4 linked regions of the Homo sapiens genome follow. Changing the gene in region 1 together with any one later gene gives a genetic interaction. Each region holds a gene or a part of one and is shown in the gene's direction. Other genes may lie near its edges.

Evidence for each region. A genetic interaction does not mean that the proteins touch.
Region 2: changes in POLD3 (region 1) and CACTIN together harm fitness more than expected from each alone (negative genetic interaction), as found in Homo sapiens cells (one large-scale study listed by BioGRID).
Region 3: changes in POLD3 (region 1) and STXBP4 together harm fitness less than expected from each alone (positive genetic interaction), as found in Homo sapiens cells (one large-scale study listed by BioGRID).
Region 4: changes in POLD3 (region 1) and TIMELESS together harm fitness more than expected from each alone (negative genetic interaction), as found in Homo sapiens cells (one large-scale study listed by BioGRID).

What each region holds. Positions count from the first base shown.
Region 1 is NC_000011.10:74,627,082-74,630,581, forward strand, and holds part of POLD3 (DNA polymerase delta subunit 3), read left to right. Parts: intron 1-2,133; coding exon of another isoform or gene 2,134-2,135; coding exon 2,136-2,242; intron 2,243-3,500. UniProt on the Homo sapiens protein: Accessory component of both the DNA polymerase delta complex and the DNA polymerase zeta complex.
Region 2 is NC_000019.10:3,623,991-3,627,967, reverse strand, and holds the start of CACTIN (splicing factor Cactin), read left to right. Parts: upstream 1-1,177; 5' UTR 1,178-1,205; coding exon 1,206-1,372; intron 1,373-3,805; coding exon 3,806-3,977. UniProt on the Homo sapiens protein: Plays a role in pre-mRNA splicing by facilitating excision of a subset of introns. Required for the splicing of CDCA5/Sororin, a regulator of sister chromatid cohesion. Involved in the regulation of innate immune response.
Region 3 is NC_000017.11:55,170,949-55,174,132, forward strand, and holds the end of STXBP4 (syntaxin-binding protein 4), read left to right. Parts: 3' UTR 1-2,684; downstream 2,685-3,184. UniProt on the Homo sapiens protein: Plays a role in the translocation of transport vesicles from the cytoplasm to the plasma membrane. Inhibits the translocation of SLC2A4 from intracellular vesicles to the plasma membrane by STX4A binding and preventing the interaction between STX4A and VAMP2.
Region 4 is NC_000012.12:56,439,427-56,442,926, reverse strand, and holds part of TIMELESS (protein timeless homolog), read left to right. Parts: intron 1-3,500. UniProt on the Homo sapiens protein: Plays an important role in the control of DNA replication, maintenance of replication fork stability, maintenance of genome stability throughout normal DNA replication, DNA repair and in the regulation of the circadian clock.

The sequences.
Region 1 (3,500 bases):
TAGCCTCAGGCAGCCCTTAGGAGATATTTCAAAAGAAGGCATTGTTATCATAAGAGATGACAGCTTCATGTGTGTTACTGCCCCTGAAGAAGACCTTCCAGTGGGACAAAATGTGGAGGTGGAAGACAATGATCATTGATGATCCTGACCCTGTGTAGGCCGAGGCTAATGTGTGTTTGGGTCTTAGCTTTCAACAAAAAAAGTTTAAAAAGTAAATAAAAAATTTTTAAAATAGAAAAAGGCCTATAGAATAGGGATATAAAGAAGAAAATATTTTTGTACAGCTGTACAATTTTTTGTGTTTTAAGCTGTGTTATTACAAAAGAGCCAAAAAGTTATAAAATTGAAAATACAGTTAAAGTAAGCTGTTTATTATTGAAGAAAGAAAAACATTTTAAAATAAATTTAGTGTTGCCTGAGTATCCAGTGTTGATAAAGTCTACAGTAGTGTACAGTAACATCCTAGGGCCTTCACATTTCACTCACCGCTCACTCACTGACTCAGCCAGAGCAACTTTCAGTACTGAAAGCCCCATTCGTGGTAAGTGCCCTATACATGTGTACCATTTTTAATCTTTTTTATACAGTATTTTTACTGTATCTTTTCTCTTTTTAGATGTTTAAATACACAAATACCGTTGTGTTACAGTTGCCTACAGTATTGAGTACAGTAACAATGATGTACAGGTTTGTAGCCTAGGAGCATAGACTATACCATCTAGGTTTGTGTGAGTATACTCTGTGATGTTCACACAGTGAAGTCACCTAACAATGCATTTCTCAAAATATGTCCCTGTCATTAAGTGATCCATGACCGCAGTTGGGAGAAGTTTCCTCTGTTTTCTGAAGGAGTTTATATATACGTGTATATTTTTCAAATGTTTAATAAAATTTACCAGTGAATCCAGGGCTGGATTTTATTTGTGGGAAAGGTTTTTATTGTGAATTTGATTTAACTAGAGCTGTTCAAATTCTCTAGTTCTTCTTGGATCAGTTTTGACTGAGTTGTGTTTTTAAAACTCAGTCAAAATTTGATCTAAATTGTTGAGTTTATTGGCATAAACCCGTTCATTATATAACTTTATTCTTCGAGTTTGTAGAACCTGTACTCGATACAGATTTCTTTACTGTTTCATTCCTGATTGATAATTTATATTTTTCTGTTTTCAAAATGGGTTTTATAAAAGGCTTATTAATAAAATTAATCTCCCAAAAATAACAACTTTGGCTTTGTTAATTTTCTCTTATTTTTTATCTCACTGATTTCTGCTCTTATCTTTATTGTTTCCTTTTACTTTGGGTTTAATTGTTCTTTTTCTAGTTCAAGGTAGAAAGGAAAGTTGGTATTTAAAGTTATATAGGACATAAGGTACTTGATGGCAAAGATTATGTCTTGTATATATTTGTTTCTCTAACATTCAGTAGGCCTTTGATAAATTACTTGTTGGTTGCATGAGGAGTGTGATGGAGTATCCATTCATCCAGAGGAGCTAAATAATGTCATGATGGAGTCTAGGATTTTTTTTATTATTATTATGTCATTAGAATCACCTTAAAAGGATATCTCTGCCTTTGCTCATATTGTTCTTTCTCTTTAAAATATGTTTCCCCTTTCTACATGATGAACTTCTACTTAGCTTTTAAGTTTTCCAAATATGAATTATATTCCATAACATTTTATTTGTCCAGTTAAATCTACCACATTGCCTTATAGCCAGTGGTGTTTGCCAGAGCTTCTTGAAAACAGTATTTTCTTCTGTATTGTTGCATTCTCAATGGCTAGCAAAGAGCCTTGTATGTATGTAGTAGCTGCTTATTTAATGCTTGTTGGATAATTGAAAGGCCAATCAGGGAAGTAAGAAGGAATTTGGAAAGATTCTTGATAACCTGGTTGTAGCTTCCAGCAGTCTCTAGAGAACTCTAGAACTTTTTTATTCAAGTCACCTCATGAAGTGACTTAGTTGTGGTCAGTTAGCAGAGTATCCTTAACAAGAGTCCTTCTTGGACTATTTGGCCGTCCTTTTCTACCCTCTGGAATTAAGACCACGAGTTATAAAGCAAAACCCATAAGAGCATGTGAATACTTACATTTTTGTTCTGTGTAACACGCTTAATTTATTTCTGGATGGCAACAGGGGGAAGCGAGTAGCATTATCTGATGATGAGACAAAGGAAACTGAAAACATGAGGAAAAAGAGGAGAAGAATCAAACTTCCTGAATCTGATAGCAGTGAAGATGAAGGTGGGCATTACCATTCATTTTGGGTTAGGGGGATCAATTTTACTTTCAATGTTCAAGGAGCTAAAAAAGTAATGGATTAAGGATCACAATGAGAGTAGTAATTCTAGCATTAAGAGACACCATAGCACCTCTTTCTGTTTGAAATCTGCATTAGCCTTTTGACTAGAACCATGATCTTTTGGAAATTTGTCAAAATAACACAGAAGGAAAGAGGATAAGAATTATTATTATACATATTATCTAAGACTTTTTCTTTTCTTTTCTTTTTTTTTTTTACTTTTAAGGGGAGGATATTCCTTTAGCTACCTTCATGTGAATCTTTTAAAAATTGTGACGTTCTAGGCAGCCAGGGTATTACTGGTGGTGGTCCACACAGGTAAAACTAGGGTTAACTGGAACAACCTACAGTGTCATTGTTAGAAGGGAATGACACTGTGGACCCTTCTAGTTTTAGGCTGTGGGCAATGTTGTAAGATAAGCAAACCTCATAAGGGCAAGAGTTTTACCGGGAACATTAATATGCTTTTAAAAAAATATCAAGTATTTTGAAGAGCCAAGATCTTGCCCCAAATTGTATAAAGTATATAGAAAAAGAAGGAGGCTAAAAAGAAAGTTAAATGGGTTGAACTGATATGCTGGACGACTCTACCTTGAAAAGCCCACTTTGAGACACAGTGGTGAAAAGTTTGAACTGCTCTAATCAATTGTCCATGAATTCATGGCATAATGGGTATAAAACATTTTAAGTAATGAGGGGAAATCTAGTCCAAAGGATTTCAGCATCACATAAAGATACAGAGACAAACACGAACAGATACTAAAAGGGAGAGTAAAGAAGAATAATGAATGCAAAAAAGGAACCTACTGAGCTATCAAAGGACAAACTTGTAAGATTCTGAAACTTGTAAGATTCTGCTTTTTCCAGAAACTACTCTAAGAGGAATTGAAAATGGTAAGAGAGGCTTCCGAAAAAAGGATATTAGCTCAACTATACAAGTGAGTGAAAAAAAAACAAATTATATATACAGTTGACAGTAATGCAAAAGAAATGAACAGACCCAAGAAATAGTAGCAGGAAGCTGAATCTGTGATAAAGGTGTAGCATCTTTGACACTTCTGTGGATTTAGATTCTACCATTCATGCTATGTGTTTAGAATTACAGCCTGTGATATCCTGTGAGAGGTACAATGTCCTTCCGTGGGTTTTAGTGGCTCTTTAGAATGGGTAGGAGTAAGACACGTGAGCATCCCAGAGAGG
Region 2 (3,977 bases), on another chromosome or scaffold:
TTCAAGCAATTCTCCCTGCCTCAACCTCCCAAGTAGCTGGGATCACAGGTGCATGCCACCACACCCGGCTAATTTTTGTATTATTTAGTAGAGATAGGGTTTCACCATATTGGCCAGGCTGGTCTTGAACTCCCGACCTCAGGTGATCCGCCCGCCTCGGCCTCTCAAAGTGCTGGGGTTACAGGCGTGAGCCACCGTGCCCGGCCAAGATAAATATTTTAAAAGTTAGCTTAAATTACTATCATCCTCCATAAACAGGCCTTCCCAGCCCCGAGTGGTTAGAACTGCACGGGGTGGTGGTAGCAGCCACCATGGGCTAGGGGAGCTCAGGATGGGACATCAGCGTCTTCTAGGTCTCTGGCCTCCAGCCTTGCCCCTGAAGTCCGTCCTCCCACGCCAAACTTGTTTCAACAGCAAGTCCCCCAAACCCTGCTCACAACCCTCCCACGGGTCCCCAGCACCCACACCACAAAGCTGGGCAGCCTGGGTTGAGAAGGCAAGTGTTAAGAGTGACTTTCCCTCTCTGAGCCTCAGTTTCCCCGTCTCTAAAATGGGTTGATGGGGGAATACAGGGAGTTATCAAAGTTTTTGTTTTTTTTTAAAGCTTAACTCCCAAAATACATAGGTGTTCATTGGCAGGTGGTGGAGCATAACGATGACTCTCATAAGAAGGCTTTTCAGTTTCTGTCCCCGCGCCCGCCCTCTGCCCTCTGGAGCTGCCTGGCACCTAACACCTTCCCGGTTCCTCGCCTTTCGGGGACCTCGCTCCCCGGACACGCCTCTCCTCGGCCACGCCCCTGGCCACGCCAATGAAGCGCTACTTCCGACCTAGACCCGCTTCTTATTGGTCTCGCCTCGGCAGGCCCCTCCCTGCACAAGGTTCCTAGTTTGCCCTTGCCCCGCCCACAGTTTCTCAGGCCCCCTGAGGCGTGGGGACCCGCCTAGGGCTGCCTCCAGCACTGCCTGAAAGGAGACTCCGCCACCCTGGAGGCAACAATCCCACTGGAGTCAATCACGCGGTCCACATTTGCAGACGTAGTGGAAAGTCTGGGGTGTCGGAGTCCTTGCGGGCTGGGGCGACGGGATGGGTTGCTCTTTCCCGGCTCAGGCGCAAACGGGGCAGCCTGGAGAGCGCCGTGGGCGAGGAAGGCCCCCAGCGCAGGCTTCGGCTATTGGTGTTGGTGCCGCGGCCACTGGCCCAGCCGATGGGTCGGGACACACGCTCGCGCTCGCGGTCCGCGGGTCGCCGGGGCCGAAGGCGGCAGAGTCAGAGCGGGAGCCGAAGTCGGAGCAGGAGCCATGGGCGGCGAAACCGACGGCGCCGGGAGGACGAGGGACGGCGCAGACGGAGGCGGCGGAGCCGGGAGCGCAGGTGGGGTCGCTGCGGGAGCAGCGCTGGGGATCCGGCTCCTACCTCAGGAGCGCCCGACCGAGGGTTGGAGATCCCGGGGAACCGGGAAACCCCCGACTTACTCGGGGAGGGCTTCCTAGAGAAGGGGACAATTGACCACCGGTTGGAATTAACCTGGCAGCGGAAGGAAGGCGAGAGGCGTTCCAGGCAGGGGACCGGGCGGTTGGAGGGACAGCCCGGAGCCGGGTGAGCGAGGCGGCGGGGAGGTAACGAGAGATCAGATCATATCATATCGAGCCCTGTGTGCTCAGCACATTAGATCTTGGCTATTAGTCGGAGGGAAATGGAGAGTCTTGAGAGGAGTTTGGGTAGGGGAGTGACGTGGACTGACTTAACTCTGCATACTTTCTGGCTTTGAGGTGGAGAAGGGATGGAGCGGGGTAGGCAGGAGCGGCATCAGAGTAGGACGGCACAATTGTCCAGACAGTAGATGATGGCAGTCTCGATGGGAGGGAGGCTGTAGTCAACCACAGCGGGCAAAGTGCGTAGATTTCAGAGGGATTCTGGAAGTAGAGGAGACAACATTTGCTAATGGAGGTGGGCTGTGGGAGGGAAAAAGACTCGGTGTCAGCTGGCAGGACTCACAGCTGATTCCTAGTGCCTGAATCTCAGCTTCCCCATGGTCCTTTTCTTCTGGAGATGGGGCACTTGGTCGGATTTGCCTTGAGCCGGCTCCAGTACAGAGAAACCAAAATGGGGACAGGGACTGATTCCCAGACCGGGGCCCCAGTGCTGGCTCAGCCCCTTCGTGGCTGACACTCAGGCCAGTCTTGCCCCGCTCTGGGCCAAGTTCACTCATCGGTTGTTGGTTTTTTTGTTTGTTTGTTTTTGAGACGGAGTCTTGCTCTGTCGCCCAGGCTGGGGTGCAGTGGCACGATCTCGGCTGTTACCTCTGCCTCCTGGGTTCAAGCGATTCTTCAGCCTCAGCCTCCCCGGTAGCTGGGGTTACAGGTGCTTGTTGCCACACCCAGCTAATTTTTGAATTTTTTCGTAGAGCTGGGATTTCTCCATATTGGCCAGGCAGGTCTTGAACTCCTGGCCTCAAGTGATCTGCCCGCCTCGGCCTCCCAAAGTGCTGGGATTACAGGCGTGAGCCACCGCGCCTGCCCATAAGTCTTGTTAATGTCATCTTTGTGTTTTTTCGCCTACCATTTTCTGGTATTGGAATTATTCACAATAATTTGCCACTCTAGATATGTAATTAGAATTAATGTTCACGAAAATTCAGTTGAACTTGTGGCCAATATTTAAGGGCTCTGCAATGATTGGTTTCAACATAGTTTAGATTTTTTTGACATGAGCTTAATGGGTAGAGCATTTAACAAAATATTTGGCAGTTCTCTGTGTACAAAGACCCCTAAACGTGACTGAGCGCAGTGGCTCACATCTGTAATCCCAACACTTTGGGAGGCTGAGACAGGAGGCTTGCCTGAGCCCAGGAGTTCAAGACCAGCCTGGGCAACATAGCAAGACCCCTCTGTACAAAAAAATGTAAAGAGTTACCTGGGCGTGGTGGTGTGTGCCTGTAGTCCCCGCTACTCAGGAGGCTGAGGCGAGAGGATGGCTTGAGCCCAGGAGGTCAAGGCTGCAGTGAGCTCTGATCATGCACTCCAGCCTGTGTGACAGAGGGAGACTCTGTCTCTAATAAATAAAAATATAGACCTTGTCTCTAGTAGACTCTGTGTCTAGTAGACCTTGTCTCTAATAAATAAAATTAAAGGCCCCTGAACCACCCCTGAGGTTGTGCATCTTCCATTCCCTGCGCTCTACTCTGTTAACTCCTGTCCATCCTGTGGGACTAGTTCAAATACCACTTCCATCTAGGAAGCCCTCCCTTGACAGCCTAAATGTGTTCGGGTCCCCTGGTTCGTACCCTTATAATTCCTGCGCCACCAGCCCCAGCCACCTCCCTGCCCGCGCCTCCTCCCTCTCCCCCACACTCTGTCTCAGCCATACAGCCTCCTTGTTGTTCTTAGAATGTGGCAGGTCAGTGCCTGCCTCTAGGCCCTCGCTCTTGCTCTGCCTCGAGCACTCTCCCTCCGAATCCACCCATCGCTGCCTCCCCACTCCCTCCAGACCTTGGCTCAGTGTCAGCTCCTGAGAGAGCCCCTCTCTGACCTCGGCCCTGCAGCCCCAGCCCCTGTGCTCGGCATTGCTACTCTTTGTGGCTTCTGCCTCTGCCTAGTGTTGCGTGGTGTGTTTATTTGTTGATGTCTTCCTTGTTGGGGCCCACCAGAGGGTGAGCCCAGGAAGGCAGAAGCCATCGGTATTTGGGTCACTGCTGTGTCCCCAGAACCTAGAACAGTGCCTGCTCCCCCACGGGCACCCAGTAAGCATCTGTGGAGCAGATGACAGCTGCAGGCACTGAGCAGGCATCCATGGTCCTCTCCGCAGGTCAGATTCAGAGGAAGAGCGGTGGCAGCGCTCAGGGATGCGAAGCCGGAGCCCCCCGCGGCCCAAGTGGCACTCAAGAGATGGGTCCTCTCAGTCGGACTCAGGAGAGGAGCAGTCACGGGGCCAGTGGGCTCGCCGGCGACGGCGCGCACGCTCGTGGTCTCCTAGCTCC
Region 3 (3,184 bases), on another chromosome or scaffold:
ATTCTGTGATTATGGATGTCAACTTATCTCAGAGCAGTATCATTGGTTGAGCAGTCCTGCAGGACATCTAAGTTTACCGTCTTTATCTTGCCATTGTCAAAGATCCTGGACCTATTTTTTTCTGCCTTGAAAACTTTTGTGCAGTAAAACCAGCAATGGATTTTAGCAGAGTTGATGCATCATTAGGATTTTCACATTAACTCTTTGGACTTAGAGCCATGTCTAAAGTGTCCTTCTTTTGGATATAGTGCCTGGTGCAGAACTCTACCACAAAACATCAGGTGTGCCTCTGAATAGTCTTTGCAAGAAGCACAAAATCCTAGAATTGAGGTGAATTTGTAAGTTCCTCTAGTCCAACCACCTTTCAAATGAAAGAATCCTTCCAAAGCACCCCTGGCCAATAGCTCATCAAGATTTTGCTTAGATATTCTTATTGAGGGGGAACTTACTAACTCCTTTAATTCTTATTTTGCTTAAGGCTGAGTTTTTAAAACATCTAACATCAGCCAAGATTATTGATTTATCTATAAGGAATAATCTGTGAATTAACCTTCTGTAGCTTTTCCTTGCTGACCAGGGAATACCTCCCCATTGAAGCCTAGGCCAGATTCCAGTCCGTTTTGACCATACCCCATCATGGTATTTTAGAGTACACCTGAATAAGATACATGGTGCCATGTACATGGAAACTGACTGCTCTCATGTTACGGGTTGAACTGTGTCCCCCCAAAATTTGTATGTTGAAGTCCTAAAATTGGCACTGTTGCCATAAGCCAGGGAACTACCTAGGAGATGCTAGGAGAGAGGCCTAGAATGGAACCCTCCCTCCCCCGCCCCTGGGGCCTTCAGAGGGAGCGGTGCCCAGCTGACACCTTGACCTTGGACTTCTAGCCTCCAAACTGTGAGACAATACATTTCTGTTGCTTAAGCCACTCAGTTAGTGTGCTTTATTTTGGCAGTCTTAGCAAACTAATACATCCCCCAATCCAGAACTGTCCTCCTTTGGATAATAAAAACAGCAATAATTATAGTGTCATTACCCTGAGTGACTGGTCCCACTGTTGGTCATTCTTTGTAGATGTGAGTTATTGCCCTATTGAGATCAGAAGTCCTCTCACTTAGAGGCATATCTAAGACTTTTTTCTTGTGGAGGGAGCTCACTCAACTGTAGGTAAGGTTTGACTCATCTGGGTTAGTAGTAAGAACAAACTTCCAAGTGGCACCATCTTAAAGGTGCAAGCCCATGTGGGCGATGACCAGGTCTGGTATATTAAGAGGCTCTTGGTAGCACATTAGAAACACCTGGAGAGATTTTAAAATTTACAAAGCCTAGCCAAACCCCAGACCCATTAACCCTGACTCTCTGAGAATAGGACCCTGGCACCTGTGTTTTAAGGATTCTAGGTGATTTCAATGTGTAGCCAAGGTTCACTGCCATAGCCTGTCCTGGAATGCAGGTAACTAAAACTTCAGCAGATTATGAAAAACAAAAGTTACTTTCTTGGATGCATATATTCTTATAGCCTCAAAACTGAAACTGCAAACTGAACAATGCTGCAGTCAGATACACACACATATTTCAACTGCATAACTTCCTTTAATAATACTTTTATTTTTCCAAATTTGAAGACTGTCCCTAAGTCATTTCTTCTAAAAGTTAGTAATAATCCCACCAACTCACATTTACATAGAAGTTACAGTTTAAAGTTTGCATCTCGTAATAACTTGGTGAGATAGGGCAAGCATTATTTCTAATTTGCATATGAGAAAAAACTAAGGCTCGGATGAGTTATGTGACTTCCCTGAGTCATGTTAGAGTAACTAACTCCTGATTTGTAAACTGAAGGTCCCAAATCCTGGGAACTCCCTCAGCTCTGGGCAAGCCAGGACAGGTAGGTCACCCTGCACCTACACAAGGACTGAGCTGAGTTCTAGTTACCTGCTGTGAAGGACTGTAGAGGTTATCTAAGCCAGCTCCTCCTTTTACTGGAAAAGGAAAAGACTGAGATAAGTTTCCAAAACCCCTGCTGGAGCACCTTCTACTTCTAGAAAGATGTTGAGGGGCTTCCAGGGCACAAAGGAAAGAGAAGTAACTGTGTCTCCTTCCCCAACCATGTATGTGATACATTCATTCTCTAGGATTGGAAATTCCCAGAAAGCTGTGTCAGCAATGAGATTTGTTTCATTGTTTTGCCTTGTTTTGTCATTGAGTTGTTATAGTTAAAGTTTATTATTTTTTAATGCAGAAAAAAGTGACTTTTGGGGGAGTGCAGAGTTCTATGAATTTTTAACACATGTCTAGTTATTTGACCACAACCGTAATCAAGATACAGAACAGTTTTATCATTTCAAGTGCTCTCCTGCTATGCTTTTATAACACACCCTTCCCCACCCCAACTCCTGGCAATTACTGCTCTATTCTCCGTAACTGTAGTTTTGCCTTTTCGAGAATATCATATAAATAATCATGTATTATGTAACATTCTGAGACAGGCTTCTTTCACCCAGCATAATGCCTTTGAGATTCATCCAGATCGTTGTGTGTATCAGTAGTTTGTTTTTATTACTGGGTTATAGTTCATTGTATGGATATACCACAGTTTCTTTAGCCATTCACCCACTGAAAGTCATTTGGGTTGTTTCTAGGCTTTGGTGATTATGAATAAAGCTGCTATCAACATCCACGTATTGGTTTTTGTGTGAACATAAGTATTCATTTCTCTAGATGAAATACCCACAAGTAGGATTTCTTGATTTTGTGATATATATGTTTTCTATTGTTGCCCTTTAAAATTACATGAATTTAGTGACTTAAGCATTACAAATTTATTATCTTACAGTTTTGTAGGTCAGAAAGGTCTTAATGGGCTAAATTCAAATTATCAGCAGGGTTGTATTTCTTTCTGGTGGCCGTCAGAGAGAATCCATTTAGGTTCAGTTCCTTGAGGTCATAGAACTTGCCTTTTGACCCCCTTTATCCACCTGCAAAGCCAGCAATGGCCAGTCAAGTCCAGTCCCTTCATGTACATCTCTTTCTAACCCTTCTCTCATCCTCTCTGAACTTTCTTCCATTGTCATATCTCTCTCTCTGACCCAACCATGAAAGGTTATCTGCTTCTAAGAATTCTTGCTTAGATTGGGTTCACCATGATAAAATTCAGGATAATTTCACCATTTCAAAGTT
Region 4 (3,500 bases), on another chromosome or scaffold:
ATTGGGGAAGTGATAAATGTCCATGAAATCTTCATAATTTATGTTCACAGATTGCAGTAAAGACAGGCGTAATAAATTATGAAAGTATTAATTTGGGGAACTAATAAATGTCCATGAAATCTTCACAATTTATGTTCTTCTGCTGTGGCTTCAGCCGGTCTCTCCATTCGGGGTCCCTGACTTCCCGCAACATCATCTATCTTATATCACTATAGAGGGTCGTTTGGTTTTCTCCAGCACATCTGGGCCTAGATTTGAATTGAAGTCTAGGAAGCAGATGGTTGCATTGATCTGAGGTTATGTATGGTCTTTTGCAGGGTGAGTGCACTGAAAGGAAAAGAGATAGAGGCCACACGGGAAAATGGCCAAACTGATGTATATAGTGATACAGTAGTAGGATATGTGTGACCCTGGTTTGATCATTTTGTTTTCTAGCTCAGAAATCTTCAGTGGCTCCCTGGCTTAGGTTCTAAATCTTTGAACTGATGGACAAAGATGAGGTTTTTCCCATAAAGCTGGTTCCAGCTGCTTTTCCATTGCTTTCCTGTTGGACTCATCTATTCATAATGGCTCCCTCTTTGGTTTTGCACTGGCAGTTCTCTGCTTAAATGCCCATCCTATTCCCAGCTGCCTTAATCCTATGCAGCTTTCAAAGGCCCAGTTCTAATCATGCTTCCTCAGACAAAACCTCCTTGACCACTTTAACCTGAAAAGAGTACTAGTTTTTTAGTTTTTTTCAGTATCACGTATTTAGAGCTTGTACTGCCTTATCTTTTACATTGTTTGTTCTATATTTGTGGATTTTATTTCTGCAACTACATTTCTTTTTTTTTTTTTTTTTTTGAGACGGAGTCTCACTCTGTCGCCCAGGCTGGAGTGCAGTGGCACGATCTCAACTCACTGTAACCTCCACCTCCCTGGTTCAAGTGATTCTCCTGCCTCAGCCTCCCGAGGAGCTGGGATTACAGGCACCCGCCACCACACCTGACTAATTTTTTGTTAGTTTTAGTAGAGACGGGGTTTCATCATGTTGGCCAGACTAGTCATGAACTCCTGACTTTGTGATCCACCCGCCTTGGCTTCCCAAAGTGCTGGGATTACAGGCGTGAGCCACCGCGCCTGGCCTCTGCATCTACATTTCTTAAATTTCTTTAGCGCTACCATTGCACCTGCACGCTATCTTTTGCCAGGAAGGTTCTCCCTAAGCATTTAGTAACTGACTATAGAGTCTGACAGATGGAGAGGAAATTAATATTTGGGGCGGGGGAGGGGTTCTGTTTGTTTTGTTTATTTGTCTTTTGAGACAGGGTCTCACTCTGTTACCCAGGCTGGAGTGCAGTGGCACAATTTCAGCTCGTTGCAACTTCAACCTCCTGGGCTCAAGTGATCCTCCTGCCTTAGCCTCCTGGGTAGCTGGGACTAAAGGTGTACATCAGCATGCCCGGCTGATTTTTGTGTTTTATTTTTTGTGGAGACTGGGCTTCGCTATGTTGCCCAGGCTGGTCTCAAACTCCTGGACTCAAGTGATCCTCCCACCTCAACCTCCCAAAGTATTAGTATTACAGGCGTGAGCCACCATGTCCAGCCAGGGATTCTTACTTTGTGCTCAGCACTGGGTAGAGTGCTTAATATCACTGCTTCTCAAACTGTCTTGGTAAAGGACCAGGTAGATTTTTCCCTCAAGCTGTTGCAGATCAGTAGTGTTCTAAAAGCACTTCTGTAAAATAAAATTACTAGAAAAATAACATTTAAAAAGACATAGAGAATACAGGCTTTTTATTATTATCATCATTAGATTCAACAAACATTGGCTGGGTGCAGTGGCTCATGCCCGTAATCCCAGCACTTTGGGAGGCCGAGGTGGGTGGATCACTTGAGGCCAGGAGTTCAGCAGCCTAGGCAACATGGCGAAACCCCATCTCAACTACAAAACACAAAAAAATTAGCCTGGCATGGTGGCACAGGCCTGTAATCCCAGCTACTTGGGAGGCTGAGGCACGATAATAGTTTGAACCCGGGAGGCAGAGGTTACAGTGAGCCAAGATCACGCCACTGCATTCCAGCCTGGGTGACAGAGGGAGACCCTGTCTCAAAACAAAACTGTAAACTGCCTGTCAAATTGCCCTAAGATGTTCTAAGTGCTAATGCTTTCTTTCTGTACTTACCTTGATGCAGACTGCTAATAGTTTGTGGATTGGCAGTGGTCTGAAGACCAAGGTTTGAGTAGCATTGCTTTACATGATCTCATTTACACTTCCCTAATATCTTGTGAGGGTGGGTATTATTATTATTTCCTCAGTATACTGATAAGGAAAGAGATTTAGTTAAGCCACCTGCTCAAGTTCACCAGTTTAGTACCAGACAGAATTGGAATTCAAGTGCTAGATGCCATTTTGTTCATACTACTGGGTCTCAAAGAGGATCCTTGGAGCAGAGTTGGTTTGGGGCAGGTAGAGTGTTTTGTTTCGTCTTCAAAAAGTAAGTTTATTTGGTCGGGCGCAGTGGCTCATGCCTGGTATCCCAGCACTTTGGGAGGCCCAGGTGGGCAGATCATGAGGTCAGGAGTTTGAGACCAGCCTGGCCAATATGGTGAAACCCCATCTCTACTAAAAATACAAAAATTAGCTGGGCATGGTGGCGCGTGCCTGTAGTCCCAGCTACTTGGGAAGCTGAGGCAGAAGAGTTGCTTGAATCCAGGAGGTGGCGGTTGCAGTGAGCTGAGATCGTGCCACTGCACTCCAGCCTGGGCGACAGAGCAAGACTCTGTCTCAAAAAAAAAAAAAAAAAAAAAAAGGTTAATTTGAATTGCAAATACATTTAATATTTTATCTGTTGTTTTCTTTTGGTTCTTGCATTTTAATGCCTCCAAGTATTGATTTCAGATGCATATTGCTTCATCTGAACTGCTTGATACTTAGTTGAGTAGGAAAAGTAACTAACATCCCTTTTAAATGTCCAGTTCCATTGGCTCTGTGGTGTTTGACAAAGTTCTCACCTGGTCTATGATGAAATGTGAAAATAAAGTCAATGTAATGAATTTTTTCATGAAGTCATATTTATTAAATTTGAAGGACAGTATTTTATCCTGAGATTTTTGTCTGTAGTTTTTTTGGTGTTAAAATGGTAGAAACAGAATGCGTATAGTAATTGTGTGGAGTGTTGTTTATAACGGCTGTTTGAGATATAATTCATATACTGTAAAATTCACCCTTTTAAAGTGTACAATTCAGGCTAGGTGTGGTGGTTCACACCTGTAATCTCAGCACTTTGGGAGGCCAAGGCAGGAGGATTGCTTGAGGCCAGTCAGGAGTTTGAGACCAGTGTGGGCAACATAGGGAGGTACCAGCTCTACACAAATTTAAAAATTAGCCAGATGTGGTATTGAATGCCTGTGGTCCCAGCTGCTTGGGAGGCTGAGGTGGGAGGATTGCTTGGGCCAAGGAGTTGAGGCTATAGCGAGTCATGATTGATCTGTACTCCAACCTGGGCTGGTCAACAGA